Regions from separate parts of the Homo sapiens genome. Here all the other regions are reported to be linked to region 3. Evidence: microRNA targets listed by miRTarBase, many of them from high-throughput screens and not tested one by one. Region 3 holds a microRNA gene; each other region holds the end of a gene's coding sequence. Distances are from middle to middle.
The links. Region 3 holds the annotated microRNA hsa-miR-135b-3p (AUGUAGGGCUAAAAGCCAUGGG, at 3,534-3,555, opposite strand). A microRNA usually pairs through its seed, bases 2 to 8, with sites in the 3' UTR of a target mRNA and lowers its output. Matches are read on the target gene's strand: a 7mer-m8 pairs with bases 2 to 8, a 7mer-A1 pairs with bases 2 to 7 and ends in A, and an 8mer does both.

Region 1 (5,753 bases), 28 Mb from region 3:
CGTGTGTTGAGTGGATGGATATTATATGGGCCAAGTAGGAAGGCACTGTGATGGGAGCAGAGATGGCCCTTCCTTTACCCTGGGGCACTCGGGATGGTGTGGTAGTGAAAGAAAAATAAACAGATCATCGGGTAAAGCTCTGGTGAACTCTTTGTTGCTTTTGTTTGATTTTGTAATGGTGTAAGTGTTGGAGAACACACTGCAGTCAGGAGGCCTGAGTAACAGTCTGTACGGAGGCACCCTCACGTCTCTGGCTCTCCCACTTCTCCATGTTTCAAATGAGCACTTGATGTTTGTGGAGAGGCGGGTAGATGACTGAGCATCCCAGAATCCTGGGCGCTTCACTGCTGCTCTGCTGGGTGCCCTCCTGGGCCCCGCTGGCTCCCAGGCTCTCCTCCTCGCTTCACTCCAACAGTTGAGTTCCTTCCATTCAGGACAGGTCGTGCTCAGGGGTCCTGTGTGCCCATCATCCGTCCCGGTGTGCCTCGTCGGACTCACTTCACAGCTCTCCCCATGGTTGGCTGAAATCTGTCTGGGCTCCAAACCCACTTTGACTTTTTGAGCTGTCACTTGGCAGAAACTGATGCTGGGACTCGGTGATTCCTGTCCTGTTTCTGAGTGCTCCTGAAGAGCTGGGCCTCCTGCCTGGGTAACAAAACATACCTCACCCTCTCCCAGCCTTCCAGGCGTTTCTTTTAGAGAGTTACCTAGCACAAGATTGAAGAAGAGGAAAGGAGCTCTGAAGCCTGTTCTCTCACTTCTTCCCACAGGTCACCAAGGAAAACAGAAACCACCTTCTGCCAGATATCGTGACGTGCGTGCAGAGCAGCAGGAAGTGAAGACACGTGCATTCCTGCCTTCCGTGAAGGAGTGCCCAGTTCAAGAGGAGCCTGATGGAGCCCTGCCTGTCGAGGCTGTATGCCTATGGGGTTATGGAACCTTGTGGGCTTTTCTAGAGAAAACTCAACAGCTGTTTCCCATAAAATGTTTAAAAGATCAAATTAGCCTTAATGCTGGATTGTCTGTACAAGATTAACTATCCATTGTGGCTTATCTATGCTTAAAGATTTCTTGTTTATTTCCTCTTGCAGTCATGCACATGATTTGGGTAAACTGTGAGATGAGAAATGGTTTTCAGAGTATTAGATGGAATTCACCCCCGTTGAAGTTTATAAATGTGTTCAGGGGAAGCGGGAGGAAAGAGTTCACTGCCTAATCAGTTTTGCATGTCATGAAAATTAAATTCCTCTCCAGGTGCAGCTTCAGCCTCATGCAACTTAAAGTGATAACAGTTATTTGATTTTTTAAAAAATATTATTCCAAAAGAAAACCATTTTAGGTCATCTCCCCCAACTCTGTTTGCTTACTGCTTAATAAATATAAAAATAAATCTGATGGTTACAGACAGGAGGCATTGTGTGGGAGGAATACACAACCTTTGGAAGTGTTGATAGCATCTGATATTCAGCCGACCAGATGACAAGAGCTCAGGCCCACGGGTTTGCATAAGAGCACTGCTTTGCCTTAGTTTACTCGGGAGCAATTTTGAATCTTTCTATGCCTAGTTTCCCTTCCAGAAAAGCAGGAAGTGGCTGTCATCTCAGGAGTGATGTCACACCACAGAAGGAAACTGTCAACCACTCCACACAACTGTGGAGAGTGCCCAGTGCCAGGGGCTGGGCTTATCAGGAATAATGGTGTAGCAATGCGGAGTTCAGCCCATAACAGGGGTACTATAAAAATGAAGTAGGAAAGTAGAAGAGACCCCTGAAACCCCAGAACTGATAGAGGATAAAAACTTCCCTCCAAGTGGTAGATGGTACTGGAGTGATAAACAGTTCAGTGTTTTTAGGTCATTTTTGGTGAAGATCTATGAATTTCCAGGATTTTTTTTTAACAAATTAGCATTGGCTACAAACCCACTGGTATAAGCAGCAGTGTGCCTTCTCTCTAACTGTGGACAAGTCGGGCATGTGGCGGGTGAGGAGCCCTGGGCTGGGCACTGGGGCACAGTGAATGGGGCGGGAGGGGCTCACATCAAAACCAAAATGGCACGCAGCCCAGGTCTGGTTCCTCCATCAGTGTCTCTTTCCTCAGCGCTTTTCTTCCGAGGTAACTTTGTGAAGCTTGACTTGGACTTGCCTAGCCTTGGAGGGACCACAACAGGGAGGCCTAATAGATTATGAACTAAGCCCTCAAAAGGGCTACCTGCCCAGGAGGAGGAAGTGGGCATCTCCTTCCACAGTCCCTGCCTGGCGGGGCTGTTCAGGGAGACTGAGTTCCGAGCTCAGGATGTCTGGCAGGCTGGCTGTGACTTCCAGCCACCATCACCAGGACACCGGTGTGGGCTGCATGCCTCAGTGGGCCAGGAGAGGCACGGCCTCTGAGTTGGGTAGAGGCTTCCCACAAAGGCCTGGGAACCTGATCCTGGCCGTAAATCTGAAAGTACCACAGCCCTCAGGAGAACCAAGAGATAGGGAGGCAGGCTGGGGAAATGTCATCAATGTGCACCCAGGCGTGGTGGAGCTGGTCAGCCCCAGCTGGAGTGGGACCCCATCAAGATGGAGCCTTTCCTGGCACCTCCGGGAGGCCGTTTTGCGTTTCCGCCCTTCATGCATCTGAAACACCAAGGGCCATGTTCCTTCTGGTGCTTGTCCTTTTGAGCTTGGTGTTTCAGCCGTGTCTGTTTTGTAGACTTTGATTTTGTCTTAAATGAGAAAGAAAGCTGGTGAAGGTTATTTCAAAGTTAAATAGCTAGTCTGAGGGGCTTATCACTGAAGCCAGTTGTGCTTATGTGGGGTGGGAGTGTCACTGCCTACTTGAAAGTATGCACTTGTGTGGAACAGATTCAGGGTGGCCCCTAGCACTTGGGGCTGCGGGAGCTTCTGCACACTTTCCCTTTAACGGTAAAGAGACAAGCTTGGAGTGTTTAAGTGGTTCGTTCAGGAGCACAGTGATAGCGGTGACAAAGGAGATTTGAACCCACGTCTGCGTGGCTCCAAAGTTCACTCTTTCATCACTCCCTGCTGCGTCCTTCTTGAGGCTTTAGCATTTTTAGTGTGTTTTGTGCCCCCAGACCTCAGAGTTGACATTTAGCAGTGATAAACTGCTGTAAATCCAAAGAACGTTTAGTGTCTCTTGTGGTGAGGTCCTGAAATGATTGTTGTATTAGTCAAACAGAATGATCATGGAGCATGTATGGAGATGTCAGATGCAATCCCTGTATTGTAAGGCAATGACATTTAATGAAGGATAAGATGAATTCACAGATAACTAGAACTCAGGGCCAAACGCACACAGCCTGTAGCAACAGTGTCATGCTGAGATTTAAAGGAAGAAGAGGTGCCGTGGCAGAACTCCACGTGACCGTCCCCTCCCTGCACGCAGCCAGGATGAGAGGAGCAGAGCTGAGCGCCACCTCCCTGTCGGTGCCACGGCTGAGGTGAGGAGCTCTTGCCGGATGGTGGGGTGGGGGCAGCAGGGCAGATTGAAGTCAGGGATTCTCTTATACCTGAGTTTGGAATGCCTCCTATTCAAACAAAGCAAAATATCTAACAGATGGTTGGATATGAGTCTCAGGGAGGAATTCAATTTGAAAAGCACAGAATTAACATGTATTGCTTATATGAAGAATCTCAGCTAGAATAACAAGGTCGGATGGGAGGAATCAGGACTGATTTGAAGCACGATTTACTAAATCATTCTTTCCTTTTCCTCCTTAGCAGATCATACCGCCAGCTGCTTAACACGTAATAGTTTAATAAATTGTTTCTTCTTACCTCTCAGTGAGGGTAAGCACATGCAGGGAGATGGGTGAGTCTTTTAAATGGATAGTGTCATCTCTGATGATCAGCCTTGACAGGGAGAGATCCTAGTAAAGCTGCAAATTCAGGCACTCAGTTCCCAGCCCTCCAGTTATCAAGGGGGTGGGAACGCTGGTGGGCTGGAAAATGTGGAACAGACCTGCTCCTCTTCTTTTCCTGCCAATTACCGTATTCATAGAAGGTTGTGTCTGTGGATCACACCTGTGTGTGTGCTGATGGCGGATGCTTGTGTAGCATAGTGACTTGGGACAAAACAGCATGGTAGATGAGGCTGGAGACGGGTGGGCTAAGTAAACAGGCATTGCATTGCACATTTTGTGGGCAAAGAAGTTGAAGCATCGCATGATTTTAACAAATTACTTGCCAGATGATTTCAACACACTGCAAAATTTAGAATCAATAATGCCAAATTGGCCACATGATTTATATAAAACCAAGTGCTATGGTTTTAATATTATCTTTAGAGGAGAAACCATTTTGATCTGTGTCCAAATAACTCTTTTTTTTTTTTTTTTTTTTGAGACAGAGTCTCACTCTGTCGCTTGAGCTGGAGTGCAGTGGTGCTATCTCGGCTCACTGTAACCTCCGCCTCCTGGGTTCAAGCGATTCTCCTGCCTCAACCTCCTGAGTAGCTGGGATTACAGGCACCCGCCACCACGCCCAGCTAATTTTTTGTATTTTTAGTAGAGACGGGGTTTCACCATGTTGGCCAAGCTGGTCTCGAACTCCTGACCTCATGATTTGCCTGCCTCAGCCTACAAAAGTGCTGGGATTACAGGCGTGAGCCACCGTGCCCAGCCCCCAAATAACTCTTGAACTGGAAAATAACTCTTTAGCTATATACTGGCAGAATATTTGAACAACTCTAGCAAGAAATGTCAGTTTAGGGATGCCTCCTCTAAATGGGGGCTTAGAATATAACATTTTGCAGGAAGTCCTTTCTGATACATAGCTGACTAGATGAAGGACCAGATTAACAAGTTCATGAGTTGTAAATATAAAAGTTGTGTACCACGATAAAAAAGAAAAAGAAGTATGGCTGCACTGTTGATGGCTGGTCAAACAGCCCCCAAGAATCCTGGGGTGACTCCAATACTGCCACCTTTTCTCTGTGGGTGCAGTTGCCTGCGGATGTGTGTGCACATCTGTGCCTCGGTATGCACACTCGAGATGCCCGCTCTCATAGACGGTGCAGAGCGTCACTGCATTCCTATCTGATTAATGTGACCTTAGTGTTGTAGATACACTGTGTCACTTTCATCCTCCCTCCTCCCCACAAAAGATGCCACGAGAACTCGTGAACTGTGATAAGCAATGAACAGAATAACTGTTGAAGAAGCACCTCATGAACCTCCCCAGAGAAACGGGATGGAGGAGCACCCAGGGTGCTCTTGCTCTCTTGCCTGCGCTGCCATTTCCTTCCAGCCTGGGTTTCTAGCTCTTTGGGGAGATTCCCCGTTTTGTGGAATGCTTTCTGTGTTTCCTACTTCTGGATGCCTAAGGAGTGGCCAGTCATACTCCTGGCTGACCACTGCCAGGCACCGTGGTTTTCCTCACTGAACTCAAGGAGTCACCCTCCGTGGGGAGGCCACACTCACAGCTCCAGGCCTGCCATTTAGCCCTTGGGGCTTGGCTGTAAAGTTGCCCAAGAGGATTACAGGAGCTGCCAGCCAAGTTTAATTTGGCCACCTTAGAGAACTGCAGCAAGGCCCTATCAGCTTCCCATTAGACAAACAACTGCATTTAAATTAAATAAAGTTTGCACCTCTAGGGAGTGCTGACCTGAAAATAAGAACCTTCTGTCTGTGATTATAGAGTACACTTGCTTTTATTAATTGCTGATTCTTAGTTTACAAAAAAAAAAATTAGAAAAGCATTACCATTTACTTTCCAAGGGGCAAGAGATTCTCTACAATACCCTTCCCCCAA
Region 2 (5,664 bases), not on the chromosome of region 3:
TTGAACTATTGAATGATGTATTTAATATCCAAATTAGTTGATAACTGTTTTCACTTCCTATCAGAAGGCCTGCTTGAAGACATAAAGGAATAATGATACATTAAAATTCTTACTAGATAGATATATTCCTTCCTCCCAGGAGTATTAGACTAGCTAATAGTAAAGGCCTCAACGTTATTCTTTACTTCATGTTGAAAACAATTACTACAGATATTTCATCCACCTCAGTATTTATCAAGGAAATGGAAAATGATACAGCTATAAAAGAAAGCTGTTATTTACTGTAGTTGTAGATGTATTCACTACAGAATCCTACATTTTTCAGCAGGCCACAGTCCAGCCAAATCCTATAATATCCTTGAAAAGAAACTATTAAAAAGGATAGACATTTCTGATGTAAGTAAAACCCCCAAGCAACTTAATATCCATCTGTCAGTCATCAACTTTTCCCCTAGATTTTTTTTTTAACTAGTTCTGAAAGTGTCAAGAATAGCTTCCCTTTCCACCCTACCTAGGTTCCCTCCTTGCTGGCATAAAGGCCAAGCAGTGAAATGAACCTTGGGTTAGAGTTATGGTAGGCAAAAAGAAAAGGAGAATTTAGGAAATAAATATGCTATAAACAAGGTACAGTACAGTGAGAGTTAACAATCCTAGGAATCCTGCCTGTCACAAGCTCCCAGTTCCCTGTCATTTTATCTTCATGATTAGAACTGATCTTCCATTTAACTATTACAGAAAGCAGTAACTATTGCAACTATCTAATAGTTCACACAAAAGAATTAAAAGCTTAAAAATAATTTTTAGGAAACACAATATTCAAAATCTAAACACACTGATAAATTATTAAGATTAAGATTATTTATGTGATAAATGAAATCTCCTACCAATCCATCCAGCCTTTACCAGGGAAGAAAAGCAATTATTTCATTTCAGATAGAAATACAAAAAAAAAAAAAATACTTTTCTTAGAAGCCAGATATGGTTTAAATGTTTTATTATCCATAATGATCTAAACTAATAAGATTCACCAAAAAGTAAAAATTCAATTTTACAATATACATTTTTTTTTTTAACTATTTGGCTTTACCTTTTTACCTTGGTTCTCCTTACTGAAGTCCTCTTGCTTTCACTTTGATCTGGTTTTTGAAGTCTCTTAATTATTGGCTGGGCATGGTGACTCATGCCTGTAATCCCGGCACTTTGGGAGGCCAAGGGAGGTGATCACTTGAGCCCAGGAGTAAAGACCAGCCTGGGCAACATAGTGAGACTCCGTCTCTACAAAAAATAAATTTAGCTGGGCATGGTGGTGCACATCTGTAGTCCTACCAACTTGGGAGGCTGAGGCAGGAGAATCGCTTGAGCCCCAGGCTTCGAGGCTGCAGTGAGCTATGATTACGACACTGCACTCCAGCCTAGGCGACAGAGCAAGACCCCATTCTCTTACAAAGTCTCTATTATAAAAGTACATCCATCAATACCATTCCATTTAAAATGGGCTATTGTAATTTACCCACATTATCACATTTTCAGGAATTATAAGAATGTGTTTTATTGTACTCCTTCCTTGGAGCTGAATGCAAGGAATGTGAATTCTGAGGAATTAAGGTAGAATATATTTGACTTTCTGGTAAAGATCATGGTTAAGTATAATCATTACTGCCAAACTGGAATTTTCAAGTTATTATAATATCCCAGGCCCCTTGATAAAAGCTGAGGGTTATCATGACCTTAATGCTAATTCAATGAGAAATGAGTTTAATAGCATAACATTACCAAGGTAATCAAACTAATAAAATTCCATATATCTTCCCTGCATCTTGTCACTGTGTACCATTCAAAGTGTTTATAAAACTCTAGATTCATCAAATGAGATTTGCTCAGCTTTTTGAAATGTTAAGATGTGTTTGGAGAAGGCTGCATGACTTTGTTTTTCCCTTTTAGCAAAACTAAATAAAGTTGTCAAATATGAATCATGTTCATTAAGGTAATTACTACACACTTGTGCTTTTAATCATATTTGCACCTCATTTTTTTGTCTGCAAGAGTAACACTGTAAACAAGCTTGAATGTCAGAGAATAACTCTTTGAGCCCATGTGAAAACTACAAAGAAAGGTCTTTGTAGTAATGACAATATACTGAGAAATGATTTCTTCAGGGGATAGGGAAGAGGACCAGGGTTTGTGAATGAGGCGGAGTTCACAGGAATCAAGGTAGACTTTAGCCTCATCTATAATGCATTATTTTAAAAGAATGTGTAACGGCATGTTTTGGGGTACCTAAATTTTATTTCAGAGGCAAGGTCTATGTTGCCCAGGCTGAGTTCGAACTCCTGAGCTTAAGTGATCCTCCCACCTCAGCCTCCTAAGTAGCTGAGATTACAGGCACACACCACTGTGCCTAGCTTTTAATTTTTTTAAAAAGAGAAAAGTATAAAATACCATACTTTGAACTTAGTATTTTCTAAAGCATTTCTGTTTTTTATCTATGATATGGTTATGGACAATTTATTTTTCATCTGATTCCCATAAAACTTTTACTCTTCTTCAACAAGGTCACCAATAAATTGTTTTAACTAAGAATACAATGAAATAAAAGGAATTCTTTATCCCTAGGACCATACTACACCTCCTCCCGGAAATGCAGACTTAATAAGGCTAACCAAAAAGATAAAATTGTCAGCTCTAAAACTATTACCTAAGGTAAAAGATCATTTGATCATTTATATTAATAACAAGGACTCAACAATTCAGGATGTGTCTTATTAAATGCTGCTGTTCTTTGGTGGTTTCAAATCCTGATGAAGTAAATCCAGTTACTTCAGTAATAATCTCTCAATCATCCCTCGTTAGCCATTTGTCAGCATTCCTAAGTAACTCGTGGTATAAAGAAAAATAATATAAAAATCAAGGCACTGTGATTACTCTTCCCCAGATGTATATAATACAGACCATTCAGAGCATGCTATCCCAAACTCTTCAGTATTCTACAACATAGAATTAGAAAACTATCATTTATTGATAGATTTAAGGTGTAATACAGGTTTCCAAAAATGTGGCAGTGAGAATACCAGCATAAAAAAGAGAAACTTGTGCTAAAAACAACCTGAATTCATCATTGGCAATATTACATAACAATCAAGGCCCTCACATACTAATGATTTCCACTTTGTCTATATTGCCAACCTCCCATGCATCAAAAAAAAAAAAAAACCCACAAGATTATCAAACTTGGGAAGCAATAAAGTACTCTATGAATTTTAAGATCATAATATTAGGAAAGTTTGGTCGATTTGCAAAATATATCCTCATCCATGTGTACAATCTCATTTCTAATCATTTTTGCAGTGATCATTAGTGAATAAAGAACAGATTTACAACTTTATATAGCAGGGCATCTGGGTTCAACACAAAACTGTTACAAACGTTAGGTAAATACACGTTTCATAAGACACTGCTAACACTTAAAGGAATTAAATAAAATTCCAAATCTTGGAAAGCAAATAAAGACAAGACAACTAAGAAGCATTTTCCACCATTTACTCTTGTTATCAAAAATAGTTCAACTCTTCTTGCAAAACAAAAACAAAATAGTACATACTGGACACATACATCACATTTTTCTTCCTATGGCTTTAGCCCACCCCCACCCCACCAAAAGAGACCAAAAAAAAAAAAAGAAAAAAAAGCCCAACAACAACAACAAAAACAACTCTACCTGACCACATTCACAGAAAATGACACCAGGATACACTACAAAACAGAAGGAGGTGTCATCTGCTCTGTGTCCAAAGGTTTCTTCTCCATGTCTTGTACTAGGCGAGTAACCATCATTGAACATGCTGTGTGCCAAATCAAAACATAACTTCAGCATATGTCAGATCTTACTAGAGATGGTGAACGTAGTAGAAATTGGAAATTTTCCAGCAGTATTTTTCTTTAAATAAGCACTGTCAAAGCTGCAGCTCTTCTTTTAAATCACAGGTTATTTCATTACACCTAGTCAGTCCTTGTTTTATTTGGGCTGTGCTCTTTCAAGCAACTGACTAGATTTCCCTTCAACAGAATGTTTGTGACTCACTTGTCTTCCCCATAAAAATTAACCGGAAGAAGTGCATTTAAACTGAAACATACTTTGTGCTTTACATGCAAAAGAGCATTCTAAAGAAAATCCTCCTAGCTTCAACCTACCTAAATGCACAGGCTTTATAAAAAGGCATTCTTATTAGGCCTCTATAAAGAAGCCTTCATAATGAACAGCACCCTAAAAAAAAACTAGGAGCATATTCAAAATAAAGACTGTGGCAAATAAACTATTAGAGAAAATAAGTCAAAGTGGCGGCCAGTGGCAATAAGTACAATACACAAATCTGGGCAAGTCTGGGAGCATTATTCCAAAATTATTTTAAGTAAATCCCAATTACTAAATAAAATCTTTTTATAATTTTAAAAAAATTCTGTCACATACTACATAGTCTAAATTTAATTACCTTCAGAATAAAACTACTCTCCTTCATTTATCCAATTAGAACACTGCTCAAAGTGAAGGAGGGATTTAGAATTTCTTCCCTAGAAATGAGTAACAGCTAAACATTTGTAGTCTGACAGAATTTTACTTTTTAAAAAGATTTCTTAAACATTCTAATGAGGGGGAATTTTTTTTCATAATACTGCTGATTTAAGAACTGCTACATACACCAGTAGCCAATATTTCATGATCAGAAATGGTATGATGTCAGCACAAAGGTTGAGCTGGACACATCAGCTTTCCAACAGGAGAAACATCAATGACATCTGAAGGCAGCACTGAGTTTCCTGAACTAATGGCTACTTTTCCACAAAAAAATTAGCACAATCTTTATGGACTGACTAGATACCACTTCCTTACATTTAATCATAAACTTTGATTATGCACAAAGCATGGCCATAAACAATGAGGTTAATGTTATTTTTCTTGCCAAAGTTCATTTTGTATAAATCAGTTGCATCAGCTTTGTTCTCAAACTATGAGGTTCTGTAAGAACTAAGGACATATAGTTGTAGGGTTACTCCTCCATTATCTGCAAACTATTTCCCCGACACTAACACATATAACTTAGCAATGAAAACACTTGATACAAGTGATCTATATGCAGGAGCTCCGGCAAGTTAAACCAACAGAACCATAGCTGCCGTAAAACTGTAGCTATTTCCCTACCAGGAGTAGGTTTAAAAGACCCACTGATTTAACAGTCGAATCTCATGTCTATAGCTTCATCCAAACTTTTATCATCATGTGTACTGGCAGCTAAAAACGTCGTTACTGGGGACCCTGTGACATTTATTACACTGGTGCTGGTACTAGCGTTACGCACAGCAATGCTAGTCACGTTAATGCCCAAAGTGAGCCTGGTCTGCTCCAAGGCCTTTTCTGGCACGGCAAATGCCTCCAGCTTCTTCTCCCCATTGGCCATATAGGAGTTTTGGCAGCCACGACATATACAATCTAAGCAGGCTTTGCGGTTAGAGTAGCAAGGGCAGCGTTGGCCTCGGCATGTAAGAACACTTGGATTTTGAGTAGCACGCCCACATTTACACCCTTTCTTTTCCTGGGGTTTTTTGTACACAGTCTTGGTAGGACTTCCTGGCATAAAATGATGACTAGGAATCTTTTCCTTTACTGCTTTG
Region 3 (5,753 bases):
ACAAGAAGAGGGATATTGCGCCCCCCACGACCCATCCCTTCATCTCCCAAGGCAGAGAGCAGAGGCACTCTCAGCAAGGCAACCCCCACCTTAACTCCCCGCCACCCCCCACCCCAGGTAAAGGGCAAAAGAGAAGTGACCCAGTAAGGAGGGTGTGCCCTCGACGCCTCTAGAACAAAGCTGAGCCCTCCGCCCCCTCCCCGGCTCCCTTAGCACCGCGTCTCAGTAATTAAAATATGAATTCACCTTCCCTCCCTGAGCCATTCATCACTGCGAAGGGAAGCAGCTGCGGCTTAGGAGACCGGATTTGGGGGATTAGCTCGGGCGGTGGAGCAGACACACCAGGAGAAAGAATTAAAAACGAAGGGGGTGAATTGGGTTTTCTCTCCCCACCTCCTCCCTCTCCCTCTCCCTCTGGCCGCCACGGAGCCTCCTTCCCCACCCCTTCCCCCAAAGCCTAGCCTCTGCAGGTTTCTGGGAACTGTAGTCTACAAGACCGTGTTGATAAACAGGCAGGCCAGGGGTGGGTGGTGGCACAAACTACAGATCCCAGGACTTCTTCCCGGAGTTGGCACCAGCAAAACTGGGCACAGACCTCCAGTCTGGGAGAAGCCCGCATTCTCCTTGGAGGTTAACTCCTTCTTGGCCTGCTTGAGCCTGAGCTCTAGCCTCTGGCTCACCGAGCTCTCTGGAATCACAGGCCAAGGCCTCTGCCTCCAATGGCCTTCAGAGACCACAGACCCTAGCTTGCCAGACCAGCCACCCTTGTATCTTGCTTGCCCACCTATGGAGAAAGCTCCCTCCACTTTTCCAGACTGCAAGGGCAGCCAAGCATTCTCAGTGGTTCTGAGATTCTTGGGAGCTGGAGAGGTCAGAGCAGCAATAGTCCTGAAATGTCTTTGTGGCCTGCACTCAGTGTTTTCCAGCCTGGCTCGGCAGAGGCTGGCCCACCGTAAGAGTGGGCAACGTGACAGGCAGCAGCAGCTGGGAACCTGGTGGACCAGACTGTCAGCGCCAGAATGAACCCCAAAGGTCAAACTTTAGTGTCAAACTTTCGAAAGATGGGGAGAGAGACTTTTTTTCCCCAATAGTCTTTATATTTAGGAAGGAGTAGGGCTTAGTAGTCAAACTCTATTTCCACTAAAAATGGAACAAATACAATAAGAGAGAGTCATCTGAATTCAGTGTTGTTAAACATGGGCCCACTCTCGCAAGGGAGGCCTTATGCTGGGTATATCTGAGGACTGTAAAAAAGACTTAGATTGCTGGGAATAAAGTTTCAGCCGTCTGCAGGCAGGGGACAGGACACACACAGCCCTCTGATCTGTGAATCCTCCAGGGAGAAGGGACATGAGGGCAACTTGCTTATTCAATGCAATTGAACAATCATGTGAAATATACAATCACATATCTTCTCCAGGCCTGTCCCATTGGCAGTAGCCAAGAGACAAAGAATAGAATGGAGATCCACCTTTGTAACCCCCAGAAGCAATCCAGGCCCAGCCCCAGCAAAGCGAGGACTGTCTCGGGTGAGTTGCTGAGCTGTGGGCTTGCTCTATGTCCCTGCTGGTGGCAACTTACCTCTTTTACCCCATCCATCTTTTCTCCCAGTTCGTACTTCATTCAACAAACATTTACTCAGCCATCCCTACAAAGTCCCTTGCCTTGCTAGAGCTTTACAGAGGTATAATCTCTGGAATGGCTCATCTGTACCCTTCCTCCTAGGCTGAGCCCAGTGCTGGGGACTACCCGGGCAAACTGAACAACAGGATTCCCGGGAGGGGCCCAGTTGCAGGGGGCAGGAAGGTGGCATGGCTCTAACCTGGCTTTCCAGTTAGGAGATCAGGAGTTAAGGGAAGGAAATCAGGTGCCTGGACAGCCTCAGAGCAGGGTAGGGAACAGGATAGGCTCACTGTGGGCCCAGGGCAGCTGGACAATGAGGGAGGTGGAGGAAGGTGCCAGCCATCTCTGAACTCTGGGTGAGAGAACCCAGAGGGCAAGTAAGAAACCCTGGCCAATTCTCATGCCTTGTTCCTTTCACCATCTAAGCTGGGGCAGGAGGGGAAGTAGCCTGGATCAGCCCCAGCAAAAACCCAGCTGGCTTGGGATTTCTCTTTGCTTCTCCTATTGTTCTGATCCCCCCGCTCCCCCCGACCTCCTGTGGGAAAAGGAAAACCAGTGATGGACAAAGGGTGATTGGAGTTGGGCCACGGGGCCAATTTGTGGACGTGCATCCAATAGAGATCTCGTGAGAACAACCTCCCGTCTGGGTACAGCACTCCCTGGTTTTCAGAGTACTTTCCCATGCACTGGTGTTGGCTCTCCCAATATGCAGCATGATGTGCTAAGAGCATGGGTTTTGGCACCAGACCACGTGGGTTCACGTCCCAGTTGTGCTCCTTCCTATCCATATGAACGTGGGCCAATTTCTTAGCTCCCTGTGCCTCAGAATTCCCATAAGTTAAATAGGCTAACAGTAGACAGGACTGTCTTGAGGATGAAATGGGTTAGTGCAGGTGAGGCGGTTAGAATCATGGGGTACATAGTAGGTACCCAGTAAGTGTTGGTTGGTGAAATTAAGGGCTCTGAGATATTATAAGAAACTTGCCTTCTGATTGTCAATACCAAATCTAGTGCTTTCTGTGATTCTTCAGTGGTCTGTCTTAGACAGACTGGGGACTGGAACAGGGAGTAGGAGGCGGGGTACGAGGATGCTTCCTCTTCCACCACAGCCACCTGTTGGAATCTTCCAGGATGGGAGGGCTAAAATCAGGCCGATTTAAAAGGGGGCAGGGGAAGGAATGTGGGAGTGGCGACAGGCATAGGGAGGAGCCAGGCAAGCTGAGTGACAAGCAGGACGGGGGCAGGGAGGGCTGGTGCCCTTCACACACCGCAGGAGGGGGCAGCTCCTGGAGATGGTAGCACACCAGGAGCCAGGGACCCTGGAGTCCAGCCTGTCGCCCGGGGGAGCGCCTGCCTTCCTAGTTTCACTCTGCAGACACCTCCTCTTCCCTCGTGGCCGGCATGGAGTGTTCCCATTTCAGCCTCAGAAAGAGCCCAGAGGTCTCCTTACACAGAAAAAAGGCTGCAGATTCCAAGCTGACCTCAGAGAAAGGAGTGAAGGAGTGAGGTTTTCCTGGAGGCACTGAGCAAAGGCCCAAGTCTTCATGGCCTGAGGCCCTTGACTTCAGCCCCCAAATCTCTGGCCATAAGCCAGGCCTCAGTAATTTGGCAAGGGGGAAGGAACCGACTCAGAAAGCTCAGCACACCCTGAAGGTCTCCTTCCTTCCTCAGAGGGAATCTCCCTCTGGAATCACCGGCCCAGTCTCTTCATTCCAGAGTGAGGAAACAGGGCCAGAAGGGAAGTGACTGGGCCAAGGTCACACGGCTTAGCCCCGATCCCAGGTTACCAGATCCCGTGATGCCCCACCCCCAAGCAAAGCCTCCTTCTGGTGCCCCTTGGTGGCTGGCTCCGAACCTGGTCCCATGGGAGGTGCAGCTGCGCAGGAGAAGGAGCTCGCCCCTCACTGTAGCCCATGGCTTTTAGCCCTACATGAGTTTGGGACAGCAATCACATAGGAATGAAAAGCCATAGGCCACAGCAGAGTGGAGGGGTCCAGCGGCAGGAATCTCATAGGGAAGCGAGAAGCTGGGGCACCCGAGAAGCCCTCACTCCCCTTCTCAGCACCCCCGACCCCAGACCCACCCACACTGCCTCCCTCCAGGACTGGGCCCCCCAGGTTAAATTCTCTCACCATCTTCCACCACCTGCACTAAAGCCATCCCAGTAATGAGTTTCCAGTTCTTGCCCTACAAAGGCCTCACACAATGGTCCTCACTCCAGGGTATGAGGAGGGGTGGCTTCCTGGCCATAAAGGACCTCCTCAAATTCCCTTAATTAGCTTCCAGCCCCCTGCCCAGGGTCCTTAACTACCCCTTCCCTAGAGAATAAGGCCGGATCTTTTCAAGGCTGCTGCTGCCAGTACCCAGGATGGGGGGCCCCAGGTTAGGCTCCCTCTTTACAAAGCTTAACTCTTTCTAGTCCAGCCACTGGAAGCACAGAGGGCAAAGGAGGGTCTGGGTAAAGGAGGGCAGCGATGAGGACCTACCCTTTGTTTAGAGGGGTTAAATAGGTTTCTTGAGTGCCCCCAGGGGTGGGGGCTGGGCCAACCTACCCAGACCAGTCTGGGTGGTTACCGACAACACCCATTCTTGCATAGTTTAGAGGAGAGTGAGATCTCTGTCTCCAGACCTGGTTGGAGTCAGAAAGAGGGCTTCAGCTGAAACCTCCCCAAGCTGAGGGCAGCTCACTCTGGAGCCATCCCTGACAAGGCTGTGGGAGGGGTGCGCAGTGCCCTGCCGCTCTCATTGGCAGGACATGGGGGTTAGCACAGACATCTCTAGGACTGGATTGAAGAGCTGAGTTAAGGCGAACCAAGGTCTCAGGGCCCTGGAAAAGGTGTGTTCTAATCACAAGTGCTATTTCCCCACCCGCTCCCATGACGGGTCAGCTGCAGGCATCAGCTTCAGAGAAGTGGGCTTCTAGGGCTCCTGCTAGCCCAGGCTCAGGAAAGCCCCAGGGGCCTCAGACCTCTCCCAGGGGCCCCCAAGAAGATGGTAAGAGGCCCCAGGCCCAGATCAGGCCCTGCCTCTGCCAGGGAGTAGCTGCCTCTCCCACCCCAACTGTACCCTCAGCCCCAGGGCAACACTTGCTGGCTCCCTGCACAACCCTGGTAGAAGCAACCTGTTTTCACTGGACAGGAATCCTGCATTCCCCAACAACAGCACAGCACAGCACAGCACACAGCACACAGCACAGCACAGCACGCCCCTCCACACACTCCAGACATGCCCAACCTTCAGGGCCAAACAACCAGGCATCCTGCGGCCTCCCACCTGAACTTTGGGCCATCTGCCCCAGCCCCAACCCCCTCTGGTTCTCCTTTCCTTCCTCTCTCATGGGCCCCCAGAACCCCAGACCCAGGCCCTGCATAAAGCCATGGACTCTAGGCAGAATGCCCTCAGCTCCCTCCCAAGGGATGCTGGGCCAGGGGCTGGGGGTCCCAGGGGCTGCTCACCTGGCGGACTCAACAAGGCCCCCTTTCCCTCGCAGTCCGCCTCACAATTCCCCGCAGAGCCACTTCCTGCCTTCCAGGCAGCCACTCACTCCTCCACTCACCCCGAGAAGCTCCACGCCCCAGCGAGGGCAGGCCTCCTCCCTCCCCCTGCCCGCCCACCACCGGCCAGGGCTGAGCTGTACCCAACTCAACTTGACTCACTTGTGACCGGCCCCTCCCCCAGCCCTGAGGACGGTGGGGGTGGGGGTGGGGGCGGGCTGGGCAGGCGGGGCAGCCAGGTATTCCTTCAACCCTGACTTGGGCCTGAGTAACAAAGGTCTCATTGAGCCTCTGGCTGTCTGGTCGGTGAAGCACAAACCTCTTGTATCTACTGGCTTTTGATCTCACTCCCTCTGAACCAGCCATGTATTACTCACGTCCCCCTGCCGGGCTATTGGTGCAGAGGGGCTGTTTGGTCCCTCCCTCCCTCCCCATCTCCTTTCTCTCCTTCCTTCCCCTGCCGCTCCCCTCCAGCTTTTTTATAGTTTAATTTTTGGCAGGAGACCTGAGACGGCTCCCTGCAGGCCCCCCTCTCCTGCCTGGCCCCCCTCCCCTTCTCCGCAGCCCTGGTTCCTCTCCTCACCCATACCCCTATTCTGCTCCCACCACTCCCCTGCCCTGGGAGGACAAGGTCAG
Region 4 (5,753 bases), not on the chromosome of region 3:
GACTTGTCAGTCAGGGGAGGTGGGGTGTCCTGGGAGGGGAGTCTGGCCTTGGCAAGGTGGCTTTCTGCAGCTGAGGAAGACCCCAGAGAAGCTGGCAGAGGAGACCTGCCCTCACCACTCCTAATGTCCATCAGTCCCACATGAGGAGCTGGCAGCACGGCATCCACTCTCTCAATTTGATCCAGAGTGAAAGCATGTTGCAGCCATTGAAGAGAACTGTAAACCTAATGCCTGCTTGCTGGGCTCCATGCAGGTGTGTGTATATCCAGGAGGTACTGGATTTACTTTATTTGTTCTTCCATTGGCCATGATGGCCAGCCCTTCCCAGGTGTGTGTTCTATGTCCACAGCCTGTTGCTCAGGAAGCTTTATTGTCTCACCTGCTAAAGTGAGCAGCCTGTCCGATGCCCCACCTGCCCTGCACCTTCCTGCCGTGGATCTGCTGTGGATCTGGGTCCCTGGAGCTTCGAGAAGAAGGTTGAGAGAGGAGGGAGGAAGTGAAAGGCTGGTGTGTTTAGGAAAGTGTCCAGTTGGGGCTGGGGATATGGGGCTTGGTCTATAGCTCCTCAGCCCCCGTGTCCTTACCATGGGAGTTCATATGGGAGCAGGCTCCTAGGGTGAGCAAATTGTGCTGGTTCACTTGGTTCCAGGAACCCCTCAGGGGCATACAGGGACAGTTGGTCACCCTCACAGCTACCGTGCTCTACTTCAGGACACAGCTAAAGGCCTCTGCTTGGGTTCAGCAACCAGCTGGTGAGTGGCCATGTCCCCTTCCACCCTCCACAGCCCTTCTCGTCAAGCCTCCCCATGGCTCCCAGCTGCCATGGCCTGTGCAGTCTCTGCACCTAGATCTCACCTCCTGACTCCACCCTGTGGTTTGCGCCTCAGATAGAGCCCCACCTCCTCCCTGAAGCCTGCCTGGCTAGCCAGAGCCTGCAGGATTCCCAGTTCCCCATCTTGGAAGGACTTGAGAACCTCCTATCTCTTGCACTGTGGTGTCTTACCCTGTGCTAAGGTCTGGGGTGTACCCAGCAGTGCCATGTCTCCCTTCCCTCAGAGGCTGTGAGCAGATTGAGGCCAGGGCTGGTTCTTGTTCTTTTCCGGTGTGCCCCACCTCATTAATGCTGAGCTGTGTCCATGCAACTGTTCTGCACATGTTACTGGAAAGGGATCCCGATCCAGACCCCAAGAGAGGGTTCTTGGATCTCATGCAAGAAAGAATTCAGGGTAAATGCATATGGTAAAATGAAAGCAAGTTTATTTAAAAAGTAAAGGAATAAAGAATGGCTACTCTATAGGCAGAGCAGCAACATGGGCTGCTTAGCTGCTTATATTTATTGTTACTTCTTGATTATATGCTAAACAAGGGGTGGATTATTCATGAGTTTTCCAGGAAAGGGGTGGGCAATTCCTGGAGCTGAGGGTTCCTCCTCTTTTCAGACCATATAAGGTAACTTCCTGATGTTGCCATGGCATTTGTAAGCTGACATGGTGCTGGTGGGAGTGTCTCTTATCATGCTAATGCATTATAATTTGCATATAATGTGCAGTGAGGACAGCCAGAGGTCACTCTCATTGCCATCTTGGTTTTGGTGGGTTTTAGCTGATTTCTTTACTGCAAACCTGTTTTATCAGCAAGGTCTTTATGACCTGTATCTTGTGTCAACCTATCTCACCCTGTGACTTAGAATGCCTAACATCTGGGAAGGCAACCCGGTAGGTCTCAGCCTTATTTTACTCAGCCTCTATACAAGATGGAGTCCATCTGGTTTAAACACCTCTGACACACATACCCAAGGAAGTCAGAAGAGGCTTCAGAGCTCCTCTCCACCCTCCTGTTACAGTCTCACCAGTGCACCACAATGTAGCAGTCTCTCATTGTTTGAGGTATCACTGGAGTTCTTTGTCTCACAACAATGAAAATTAAGGAGCGTGGACACCAAGGATGAGGTTGGAGTGAAAGTTTAATGAGTGAGAGAAGAAAGCTCTCTGCTGTGGAGAGGAGGCCTGAAAGAGGGTTGCCATTTTTACAGTTGAATGTAAAGGCTTTTATAAGAAACCGATGAGGACTGGGCAGCTCATCTGCATAAGGCATGAATTTCTGGTAGCTCCCTGCTGTCCTTCTAATGTACATGTGGGCCCTTGGCTTGAGTTACTTACTCCATATTGCTTTGTTCCCCTTACTGCACATGTCAGGGGATGAAATTTTCCATTGCAGGCATGTTTGGGCAAGTCACCTGTGTAGTCTGTCTTATCTATGAGGCTGTGGGCATGTCTTAGGCAAGCCCCCCTGTGCAAGTTCCCATATCTGTGCCTGCAGCTTGATTTTTCAGGCTGTTCTTTTGTTTAAAAGAATTCTACCGAGAACCCACCCTAACTGCCTGCCTGACTGGTTTCTTCCTTTCTCCTCTCTCACTCCTTCTCCAGATGAGGAAACAAGATCAGAGAGGGACAGTGACTTGCCAAGTTCACACTGAGATGAGTCCACCCTGTACCCTCCCCTCCTCAAAAGAGGACCTTACCAAAGGGACTGTCATCGGGGGCCCTCAACATCCATATAGTGATGACACTTGGGAAGAGATATGACAAAAGCAAGAAACAGAATCCTAAGGTCTTAAATGTAATGTTGGAAACAACATTAGAGCTGGAAAACAACTTAAGGAATAATGGTAATGAGGCATTTGCATCATTGTACAATGCTAATGTTATTTTATCTTGAAAACAATCTTGAGAAGTAGGAATTATTGTCCTCTTTCACAAGACAGGAAAAATGAGGCCAAGGGTTAGTGACTTGCTGAGGGTCACACAGTGACAGAGTGGTATCCTGGTCCCTGTCCCTGACTTCTTCCCTAGGGCTCCTCCTCCTGGGCATCTCACTCAGAGGAAGCAGGGCCATCAGTGGTACTGGTGCCAGCTCTTGGGGAGCTATTTTCCCCCAGGTGGGTTAAGTTCTCTCCTAGTATACAACAGGATGGTGGCTACACCGTCATGATAGGGAGAACAGCTATCTTAGGAGGCTGCTTGCTAGACAGAGATGGGTGTGTGTGCGTGTCTGTCTGTCTGTCTGTCTGTCTGTCTGTCTGTCTGTCCTGGGTCCAGAGCCGTCAATTCTTCAGCCTCAGTCTTCCCTCTATTGCCCTCTCCTGGACATAGGGAAGAAGTGCCTCCTCCCTGCTGTCCCCCAGGATTACTCCCTGCCTCTTCCACTCTCCCCACATCCATCCTGAAGTGGCCCCTCTGGCTGTCCACCAGGGTCCTGGCTGTGTCACTCTCTTGGCCATTGGAACGTCCCTGACCCAGGGTTCAATGCACAGTTGTCACATTTATCCCCAGGTGCTATTCCAGTCACTCCAGGTCAGTAGACACCTGTGTGTGTGTGTGTGTGTGTGTGTGTGTGTGTGTGTGTGTGTGTGTGTGTGTAGGGGAATCCAGGCTGCATTCTCCAGCCTTCATTGCTGGACGCCAAGCCAGTGCTCTGGACAATAGAGGCTGAGTCTGAGCCCTGAGTCAGTGGGTGGGAGGCAGATTCCTCGGGACATTGGGTCCCTGGCCAGAGGCTACTTGGGCTCCATTTTCCCTGTCCCCCTGCCTGGGCCAGTCCTCCAGGCCGTGGTCAGTTCCAAGTTACTGTCTTCACTGTGTCCCAAGTGTGTCTTCTCTCTCTATCCTGAGGGGTAGGAGGAGGGTTGCTCCACCCTTCCTCTGAGCCATGGTCTCCCCACCAGTGTCTGTGGGGTGAGCAGCCTCCATACAGAGCCAAGGTCTCAGCCACCCCAGGGTATGGACTTCCTGGAGGCTGCTGGGTCCCCTGTGGGAACTCAGACTTGGAGCCCAGGTGTAGAAGCTGGGGGAGAGAGCCCCAAGTCCAGCCTCTGCACTTCAGTCTTGGGAGAGGCTGACCCTGCAGCCCAGAGGCTCTTAGCTGCCTGGTCACAGCTTTCTAAGGAGGCAGCGGCCAGCAGGAGGCAGCAGTGAGAGCGTGGGCTCTGCGCGGTCCCAGGACAGGAGGGAGGAGCAGCCCCAGTCAGGGCAGGGCCATCCAGAGGCCCAGCAAAGGACACCTGTCCCGACAAGAGAAGCTGCCAACCCCTCTGTGGGTCCCCAGCTTTTAGTCACTGTTTCCTCTCCTCCAGGATGGGACATCACTGCCTCTGGCATTCGTGAGCCCGATTCTTTCTTCCCTAACCTTAGGGGAAGCTGAAGCAGAACGGAGGGAAGCAGAGGACACAGTGGCCCTGGTGGGGAGGGCAGCTCAGCCCAATAGGGTTTCTGAGGCAGACGGGAGCTGAGGTTCTCTGTAAACAGCACTCTCAGGGTTCCCCTGCCTCCACCAAGAGCCCTGGGGTCTGCAGCTCCGAGCAGAAACCACTGGTCACATTTCCTCGGGACTTTCTCCCTGATGCCCTTTGCTCTGGGCCCCTCCCCAGGTTCCTGCCCCCAAGGAGAACACTGGGCTGTGGGGCTGCTTAGGATGGCAGCCTCTGGGTTTGGGAAGTCCTGGGTGAGTCCAGCACTGCACAAGTCCTCCAGCTTCATAAGATCGATACTGGCCCCAATCTTCACCCCTCCTCTAACCCCCTGGGGCCACTCTGGGAGAAGCTCCCCACCCCATGCTTAAGTGGCCTCAGATCAAGTAGACTTCCACATAGGGCTCTGGTCTTCCAGGTGGGTCACGTGTAGAAGGATCGCTGCACATGCTGTAGCCTGCAAGAAACAGGGAGAGCTGAGGAAGTGTCCTGCCCTGCCCACGGTGCCCCGATGCTCCTCCACCAGCCCCAGCCCCTTTCTGGCTCTGCCTCTGGTTCCTTCCAGGTCATCCCCTTAGGGTTGTGCTGGGTGGTCTCCGCCTGGCCGCCCTCCTCCCCAGGTGGAAGCGTCATAGTCCTTTTGACTGGACACAGGCCAAGGGCCATACCACGTGGGGACTCGAGGTCATAACCCTTAGTGCAGTTACCCAGAGCTCTGCCCTCAGGAGGCTGGGAGGTGGGCTCTACTCACTTGCCATGTGTCTCTTCTTCCAAAACCCATAGACCATGATCAGCATCAGCACCAGGAGGGTCAGCACCACCCCAAGCACAGTGGAGTAAACATCCTGGTGCCTGAGAAGAAGGGACAGGGTGGAAGCGGGTGAGCACCAAGGTCCCCCATCCTAACCCACGTTGGGATCGGACCAGCAGCAGAAACCCTGAGAGCGTGCCCTTCCCGGGGTAGACGGCCACCCTCTTCCTTACAGACCCGGCCACAGAAGCAAGTGTGACATCCGGAGTTAAGAGGAGGACGTCCCCAGGTAGAGGGGAACATCTCTCTACTTTGGTACCTCTCCTCCATTATGCCCCCAAATCTGTTCATCAGTGAGGATGAGGATTCTAGGAGACTCCCATTTGTGGCTAAAGAGATCAAGATGCTTGCTCTCCTCAAGGGGTCTGAGGATGCCTGTTCCCCCACTCTATCCTCTGTAGCAGATGCTGTCGGGCCCCTGCCTGTGTCCTCTTGCCTGTGTCATTTCCACCTGCACACATCATCAGCACCTCCTTTTCTGTGGGTGGGAGGCTGAGGCCTTTCTCTTGTCACTAGAGCCCTCTATGCCACACACAGCAGGCAGCCCTCTACTGATAACCAATTGGAGTTGGTGTGTAACTATGCGGGCTCCTTTGCCCTTCAGATGTGTGTTTTATGCTAGATCTGACTCTCCCCGTTGGGATTAGGCTCTTGTTGTGCACAGCAGCTGCTTGGTTAAGTACTCTTTATTAGAGG

Region 1: the mRNA of NTPCR is a reported target of hsa-miR-135b-3p. Seed matches in the 3' UTR shown: 7mer-A1 at 4,579-4,585.
Region 2: miRTarBase lists MSL2 as a target of hsa-miR-135b-3p. Seed matches in the 3' UTR shown: 8mer at 5,035-5,042.
Region 4: miRTarBase lists TREML2 as a target of hsa-miR-135b-3p. Seed matches in the 3' UTR shown: 7mer-m8 at 3,417-3,423.

Annotation. Positions count from the first base shown.
Region 1 is chr1:232,977,393-232,983,145 of GRCh38, forward strand. It overlaps NTPCR (nucleoside-triphosphatase, cancer-related), which reads left to right. Exons shown (of 5, transcript NM_032324.3): 5 at 771-5,753. The coding sequence ends at 839. Among named protein-coding and RNA genes, the nearest start is that of NTPCR, 30 kb to the left of the region's middle. RefSeq lists an enhancer at 362-1,561.
Region 2 is chr3:136,145,925-136,151,588 of GRCh38, forward strand. MSL2 (MSL complex subunit 2) reads right to left here. Exons shown (of 2, transcript NM_018133.4): 2 at 2,993-5,664. The coding sequence ends at 5,223. It overlaps PPP2R3A (protein phosphatase 2 regulatory subunit B''alpha), which reads left to right. Exons shown (of 14, transcript NM_002718.5): 14 at 1-1,970. Among named protein-coding and RNA genes, the nearest start is that of MSL2, 48 kb to the right of the region's middle.
Region 3 is chr1:205,444,790-205,450,542 of GRCh38, forward strand. MIR135B (microRNA 135b) reads right to left here and starts at 3,609; the gene lies at 3,513-3,609. All of the region lies in intron 1 of BLACAT1 (BLACAT1 overlapping LEMD1 locus), which reads right to left. It also overlaps a transcript of LEMD1 not described here. RefSeq lists enhancers at 480-991, 992-1,503 and a silencer at 5,194-5,403.
Region 4 is chr6:41,187,804-41,193,556 of GRCh38, forward strand. TREML2 (triggering receptor expressed on myeloid cells like 2) reads right to left here. Exons shown (of 5, transcript NM_024807.4): 4 at 4,998-5,098; 5 at 1,946-4,703. The coding sequence ends at 4,624. Among named protein-coding and RNA genes, the nearest start is that of TREML2, 10 kb to the right of the region's middle. RefSeq lists enhancers at 3,540-4,047, 3,666-3,735.